Linked DNA regions of Homo sapiens. The protein of the gene in region 1 purifies or fractionates together with the protein of each later gene. This does not show direct contact. Each region holds a gene or a part of one and is shown in the gene's direction. Other genes may lie near its edges. The genes, in order: MTFR1 and PRMT2.

Region 1 (3,500 bases):
TCAAGAAGAGAAATGACTGAATGGTATACTTACTTTTGCCCTATGGATTTATTTGTAAAAGAACAGGATCTATTAAAATGTATAAGGTAGGGCCATGTGCGGTGGTGCACGCCTGTAATCCTAGGAGTTTGGGAGGCTAAGACAGGTGGATCACTTGAGGTCAAGAGTTCGGGACCAGCCTGGCCAACATGGTGAAACCCCGTCTCTACTAAAAATACAAAAAAATTAGCCAGGCATGGTGGCATTCACTTGTAATCCCAGCTACAGTAATCTCAGCTACTCAAGAGGCTGAAGCAGGAGAATCACTTGAACCTGGAGGGGGCAGAGGTTGCAGGGAGCCGAGATTGCTCCACTTCACTCCAGCCTGGGCGAAAGAGTGAAACTCCATCTCAAAAATAAATACATAATAGTAATAAGGTAAAAAGTTTGCTTAAATACTGTCTTAGAATTATTTGCCCATGTTTGTTCTTTTTTTGGTGGGTAGTCTGATGTTGACATTGTAGAACTTGCGAGGCTTCCCATTTTTCTCTAGTCAGATGTTTTCCTTTCCCTTAGTCCTCACGTTATTAAGACTACTTGTGTCATAATCCTGTATGATTATTGATGTGAATGATGTTTTCTTCTAAGCTTCAGAGTAACTTTGCTTCTTAACATTCTTTGTATACTATTCATATTTTAATATTTTTATCTTCCTTTCTACTTACCAGTTTTCTAATCTTTGCCATCCTTTTTATTTACATTTCCGAAGCAAGAGCTATCATTTTTGTTGGTTATTGGAGTCAGTATAGGTTATAAGTACTTTTTGGAACTCTTCTAGGTAAGATTCAGTGAAACTTTGGAAAATGTGTGATAAAAATTATATGAAAGCTATGGCAGGTGCCAGGGGTATTATATATCCTTCTATGATTTCCACTTTGTTGGTTTTTTTCTCAGGGGTTGGGGGGCGGGGGGACATGGTCTCACTCTGTTGCTTAGGCTGGAGTGCAGTGGTGCAATCCTAACTCACTGCAGCCTGGAACTCCTGGGCTCAAGGGACCTTCCTGCTTTAGACTCTCCTGTAGCTAGGATGACAGCATGCATCACCACCCCTGGCTAAGTTTCCAATTTTTTGTAGAGATGGCGGTCTCACAAAAAGACCCCAGGCTGGTCTCAAACTTCTGGCCACAAATGATCCTCCTACCTCAGCCTCCCAAAGCACTGAGATTACAGATGTTAGCTACTGTGCCCAGCCCTGAACCCCACACTGACTCATACTGTTATCCTTGAATTGGACTTGATTGCTAAAATTTAAGAAATCAGATAGTTTCTGTGCTCATTTTATAAGTTGTATATGCTTTTATCTAAGGGTCTAGTTTGAGTTAGGTTTTGGAGCCTCCACTGTTTACAGTGAACCGTTGTTTGGTTATGCTGTTTGTTTATATTGGGGTAATTTCATTCTTTAAAGTAGAATGATCACGGATTGATCTTAAAAAAGTGGTAGTATCCATTTCTCCAGAATTCATACTCAGCTGATTTGGTTCTTTTTAGTCTTTAGAATATAATTGTTTTTTGAGTTTTTATTTTGTTTTATTTTTGAGACAAGGTCTCGCTTTGTCACCCAGGCTGGAGTGCAGTGGTGCCATCTTGGCTCACTGCAACCTCCGCTTCCTGGGTTCAAGCAGTTCTCTTTTTTTTTTTTTTTTTTTTTTTTGAGACGGAGTCTCGCTCTGTCGCCCAGGCCGGACTGCGGACTGCAGTGGCGCAATCTCGGCTCACTGCAAGCTCCGCCTCCCGGGTTCACGCCATTCTCCTGCCTCAGCCTCCCGAGTAGCTGGGACTACAGGCGCCCGCCACCGTGCCCGGCTAATTTTTTGTATTTTTAGTAGAGACGGGGTTTCACCTTGTTAGCCAGGATGGTCTCGATCTCCTGACCTCATGATCCACCCGCCTCGGCCTCCCAAAGTGCTGGGATTACAGGCGTGAGCCACCGCGCCCGGCCTGGGTTCAAGCAGTTCTCATGCCTCAGCCTCCCAAGTAGCTGGGATTACAGGTGTGCACCACCATGCCTGGCTAATTTTTGTATTTTTAGTAGAGATGGGGTTTTGCCATGTTGGCCAGGCTGGTCTTGAACTCCTGGCCTCAGGTGATCCGCCCATTTTGGTGTCCCAAAGTGCTGGGATTACAGGCAGGAGCCGCCGCACCTGGCCTTACATAACTGAATGTTAAAGTTTGATGAATTAAGTATAATAGTCATATAATTCTTACTCTTTTCTTTTAAAATTGCTTTTAATAGCATACTACCTTTCTTTACTTATTCTGTCCAGGCTTTCAAGTGTAGCACTCAAAACAGATGAATAGTTTTTCCTTTAAAGAGGGGTCATATACTTGGGGAGAAGTTTCAAGGTACAATTTATAATGATTTACCTAACATTCAACACATGTGCTTTTTGTTGTTTTTGTTTTTTTTTTTTTTTTGCTTTGAGGGTTTGTTTTTGTCTTTAAGCATAGCATAATGTCCTGTTTTATTATGATTTCATCTGAGAAATTCTGCTCAGATGAAATTTCTTACCTTTCCTTTGGGGAGCAGGCCTCCCAAGAGCAATATGCCTGGATTTCAGCCTTTGCTCACCCTTGGCCAAGCATTCTTGTGCAGCAAACAACATGGAGCACCCTGCATGGTACACATTCAGATTCTGAACTTTGTACTAATTTGGGATTGTTTTGAAAAGTGTGTAACAGCAAAAGTAACATACATTTAATAAAAACTATGTATATCAAAATTCTAAAACTAAAAATATAGCAGAAGAGATAAAATAGTGTTTCTGTTGCAGAATAGTATGAAAACCTGATGAAAATAAAATTTTTACTGTAAGTATAGTATTTAAAAATTACTGGCTAGTTTATATTTTTATATAATACTTTACATTAAACTTTATTGAATTAATAATATCTATCTCTCTATCTATCTATATATTCTTTATTTTTGGATTGAGAAACATTAGCTTATTTGCCATAACATTTAGAGCATTCTGATCCTGTAATTAATGTGTTAGTATGTCATACAAATAATTGTCTAATGCTTTGTCTTAACAGTTCTGTACATCTTGTAATTAAGCTTTCGGTTTTTCCTACTTCCTCAGGTACTTTGGTCTAGGAAGCCATATGGTTCGTCTCGAAGTATCGTAAGGAAAATTGGTACTAATTTGTCTCTGATTCAGTGTCCAAGAGTTCAGTTTCAGGTATTATATTTTATATATTTTAAGTATTTTATTAATATGTACATTAGAAATATAAATAGGCAAGATGGTTTTAAAAGCATTTTGTTTTTGAGACTTTTCACCAATTGATGCCACTATCAATACAATAGAAGAGGATTAAAAACCACAGTAAAGCCTTTCTAATTTTAGTTTCTCTGTGACGTGATTGAGATTTTTAAGATATTTATCCTTCTTAAGGATGCATATGTGAAGATTTAGGAGCATATAATAAGCTAAGCAGTTGTTAATTCCTAGGTGACCTCA
Region 2 (4,019 bases), on another chromosome or scaffold:
CCTTGGGTGTGGTTGGTCTCATGGGGTTGGGAGGGATGCACACGCTGGGCCCCCTCCCCACCCCTCTTAGGCCGTCTATACTGTGCTGAGCTGAGCCGAGCTGCAGCCTTGGAGACTCCTTACACAGTGGGTGGGGTCGCAGCACAGTGTCCACCCAAGTCCAGGCTCTGCAGGACCCAGGACCCAGCGCTTGGGTGCTTCCCACCAGACCCTTCCCTGAGAACCTGGGTTTGAAATTGTCTGACAGGCCTCAGATGTGGCACAGACCAGCATTGTCACTTGGGTGCTAAGAAGTTGCTGTGCTGGTCATGGATTAAGATTGCTGTGCGTGTGGCAGCCGGCTCGGGCATGCGAGTCTTCCATCCACTTGCAGCCCTGCGTCTGTGTCTTGTCCGGGAGGTGGGGGCAGTTGGGAGGGTTAGAGGCGGCTCCTTTCTGGGTGCCCCTGGAGGGGCAGGTGTGGCCAGTCCTCGCTGCCTCTGCTGTCTGGAATGCTGCTTCCCTCTTGTGTCATTGACCATTTCTCGTGATGCTGGTTGTGACTCAGGAGAGTAGATGACGGGCCGTGTGCCGGCCGGATGTACGCTGACGGTGCCTCTGCTGCTGCAGGTGTACGCGGTGGAGGCCAGTGAGATGGCACAGCACACGGGGCAGCTGGTCCTGCAGAACGGCTTTGCTGACATCATCACCGTGTACCAGCAGAAGGTGGAGGATGTGGTGCTGCCCGAGAAGGTGGACGTGCTGGTGTCTGAGTGGATGGGGACCTGCCTGCTGGTGAGGGCGGGCGTGCGGGCAGCTGGGGGCCGGAGCTGGGGGGCTTCTGAGCACGGGCTCGGCTGGGCCAACCTCAGGATCTCAAGGGTCGTGCGTGATTCATTTTGATGTTTTCCCTAATGTGAGGTCTAATTAATTTCTTGTGTGGACATTGGCTCAGTGTCTTGAATTTTCACCTGATTTAAAAAATGCCTTTATGAGAAATTTAAGTCAAAGTTCATGTAACATTTTCATGAGTGATTTACATGAACTGTGTTCTCCTCGGGGATCTGTAAAAATCCTGTGCCTAACAGGTAAGGCTGTTTCTTTAATGCCAGTAGGGCCTTCGTCCCTGGCCAGGGTCTCCTCGCCTTAGACTGGCCCCAGTGATGCTGTGAAGCCACTTGGGCATCTGTAGGGCCAGCATATGCCTGTCCTGTCAGGGTTGCTCACCCTGAGTTTCACATGTGGGTGGAAGTGGACTGTTTTCTGGTTGCCTGTGAATATGCCCTGCACAAACGCTGTCTGCTTGGAGGGAAGTTGACGGGAGTGTGGCTGGATGCTGTCTGCCCGCGCTGTCTTCCTGGGCTCAGCATCCTGGGACACAGGACATTGTAGTGGAGCATCCCAACCTGAAACTTTGTCTCAGTGTAGAGACCCAGAAAGATGGGGTCTGGGTGAAGGAGTGTGGAGTATGGCTGCTGCTTTCCAGGAAACGGTTTCCCCTGGTAACAGATGGCATTGGGCTTTTAGTCCTGTTGAAATTTTGTTGTCAGAAGATAAATGTAAATAGACTCAATGTCCATGCTGTGACTTGGCTTATTAATAACATCTGTGGAGCCATAAGATGACACACAGGAGAAACGGGCTCCACTCCTACCCCCTGAAGGGGCATTTGCCTTTGCCCTGAACAGCAGCGCCCATTCAATAAGTATCTGTTGACAGCTGGTGCCCCGGCCACGGGGACAAAAAGAGGACAGAGCAGGAGTGAGGCTGTGGTGAGGCCAAGGTTGTGTGGGCGGTGATACGGGGAAGCCTGGCTGCTGGAGTGTCCGGCTGTGCCCTGGATTGGGTGAGAGGGACACAGGAGGGACGTGGGGCAGAGGGAGGGGAGAGGAGTAGCCACTGTGTTCACCGTGTTGCCGTGTTCCAGGGCTGCCCAGTGGCCGGATTGGCCAGACTGTGTTGCATCAGGGAGGCAGAGGCCAGATGTAGGGAACTGTGTGTCTGAGGACTTTGTGCCACGTCCTGGACACCGAAGGGAGTGCCACTGGTGTGTGAGTGATGGAGTAAGAGGTGGGCTGTGTTTTGGAGGCCCCTGGGTATGTGTGGCCGGGACTGGAGGCCAGGGACTGGCTGTGGTCCAGCCCCAGCATGCAGAGAGGCCTGGGACATTCTGTGTGAGGGGAGGCCCCTCTGTGTGGGAGGTGCACAGACTTCCAGGACTGACCATGGCTTTATTGTCAGGATGCAGGAGCCAGGGCTTGGCATGGGGCAGGTGTGGGGGATGCAGAGCAGGGCCAGCAGGCAGGATGTGCTGATGGGGGCCTGGCGTGAGCAGGACGGTGCCTCCCAGCCCTGAGCCGCAGGGAGTGGGCCACCAGGACTGGCTGGGGGCCGGGGTAGGGAGGGCCCTGGGGAGGGTGGACATCTGTGTGGGTCTTGAACATAGGATGCCCATCCGATGTGCAGGGCCAGCTATTGGTTGGGCAGTGGGGACATGGCCTGGGGTCTCGGTGGGCGATGGCCTGGAGGGGCCACCCTGAGCAGGACATTTGGAGGAGTGCTGGGGTGAGTCAGACAGGACCATGTGGTGGTTTTCTCCAGTGCAGGCAGTGGAGGGGGAAGGCGGAGCTTTGCAGGTGAGGGCTTGAGGCAGTTCCGACTTCAGACTCCCCCCCAGGGAGACTGAGGGACCACCACCATCATTACTCAGGCCAAGGAGGCCCAGAACAGGGCAGACGGGGCTGCAAGAGTTCCTATGGCGATAGTTGTTGGGGCACAGGGTTGGTCGGATTTGAGGGAGGGAGGGTATGAATCTGGGAGTCGTTGGTGCGGTTGTACCCACCTTCACTTTCCGTCCCCAGGCTGCGCCTCTCCTGAGCTGCCGCATTCTCCCCTGCACCTGTGCGTCTGGCCCTCTTCACGTCCTCCTGGCCTGCTGTCTGCCTCTCCCCTGCACCTGTGCGTCTGTCCCTCTTCATGTCCTCCTTGCCTGCTGTCTGCCTGTTCTCAGAGCCCCTCAGCCCTCAGGCCTTCATCTCTCCTGGCCCATCTTCCTACTCTGACGCTGACATGTAGTAAAAGTCTGAAGACAGAGAAGAGTGCATGTGCGTTTAGCATAGGAGGGGCAGCTTTCAGTCAGTGCAGCAAGGGCATGTAGTTGTTCAGAGATGGTGCTGGAACGACTGATTTGGAGAAAAGAGGCCCTTCTTCACACCATCTGCTAAAATAAACCTCAGATGGGCTCAAGAGTTAAATATTTAAGAAAAGGAGGAAACAAAAAAATTGCTACAAGTTTATTTGTTGTTAGGATGGGAAAGGTTTTTCTAAGAACCAAGTTCATAATGAAGCTGTCAAATAAAATACTTGACAAAAAATTCCCCTTCATACATTAGCACAGCTAAAAACTATTAAATGGTAAATGCAACTAAAGAATTGCAGCTAAAGAATTGTGTGACGTAAAGAGTTGCAATAAGAAAAGCATAAGATAAAGGTAACCTCATGGAAGGTGAGCAGGGACTAGAAAGGCAGAGAAATGCCAGAGGCCAGGAGCTTGAACGTTGTTCAATGCCACCAACAATTTGAAAGTAACTGTAATAGTTTTGACCTGGGAAGTTGGCTGAGCAATCCTCTAATATCTGATGCTCCCGATGCTGAGGTTGTGGGGAAGTGTGCACCGCCATGCCCTTTTTTTGGCAGTGTAAATTGGTAAAGCCTTTTGAAGGAAAATAGGGCAGAATAAGTCAAAGAGCATTAAAATTTTTTTGTTTTTCCAGAAGCAGCAAAGTTCTGAAGGAGACGCAAGTAAAGATACCACAGGTGTCCTAGATTGTCAACAGACCATTTAATCATTTTTGTTAACAAAGCAGGTGACAATTGAGCCCTAATTTGCGTTATCATTAGTTGTTACAGGATCTTGCTTGTTCTCCTGAGGCCACGCCACGATTTCCGAGAAGCAGGTTGCACACTCAGCAGTCTCCCACTAGCCAGTGGCACTGCAGGTGCAGGGGCTGCCTCCTGGACCTTTCAGGACGCTTTGCAAG

The links.
Region 2: the proteins of MTFR1 (region 1) and PRMT2 purify together in Homo sapiens (co-immunoprecipitation; one large-scale study listed by IntAct). This does not show direct contact.

The regions. Positions count from the first base shown.
Region 1 is NC_000008.11:65,679,234-65,682,733, forward strand, and holds part of MTFR1 (mitochondrial fission regulator 1 isoform 1 precursor), read left to right. Parts: intron 1-2,810; exon of another isoform or gene 2,811-2,847; intron 2,848-3,119; coding exon 3,120-3,218; intron 3,219-3,500. UniProt on the Homo sapiens protein: May play a role in mitochondrial aerobic respiration. May also regulate mitochondrial organization and fission.
Region 2 is NC_000021.9:46,648,966-46,652,984, forward strand, and holds part of PRMT2 (protein arginine N-methyltransferase 2), read left to right. Parts: intron 1-609; coding exon 610-774; intron 775-2,840; coding exon of another isoform or gene 2,841-3,041; exon of another isoform or gene 3,042-3,879; coding exon of another isoform or gene 3,880-4,019. UniProt on the Homo sapiens protein: Arginine methyltransferase that methylates the guanidino nitrogens of arginyl residues in proteins such as STAT3, FBL, histone H4. Acts as a coactivator (with NCOA2) of the androgen receptor (AR)-mediated transactivation.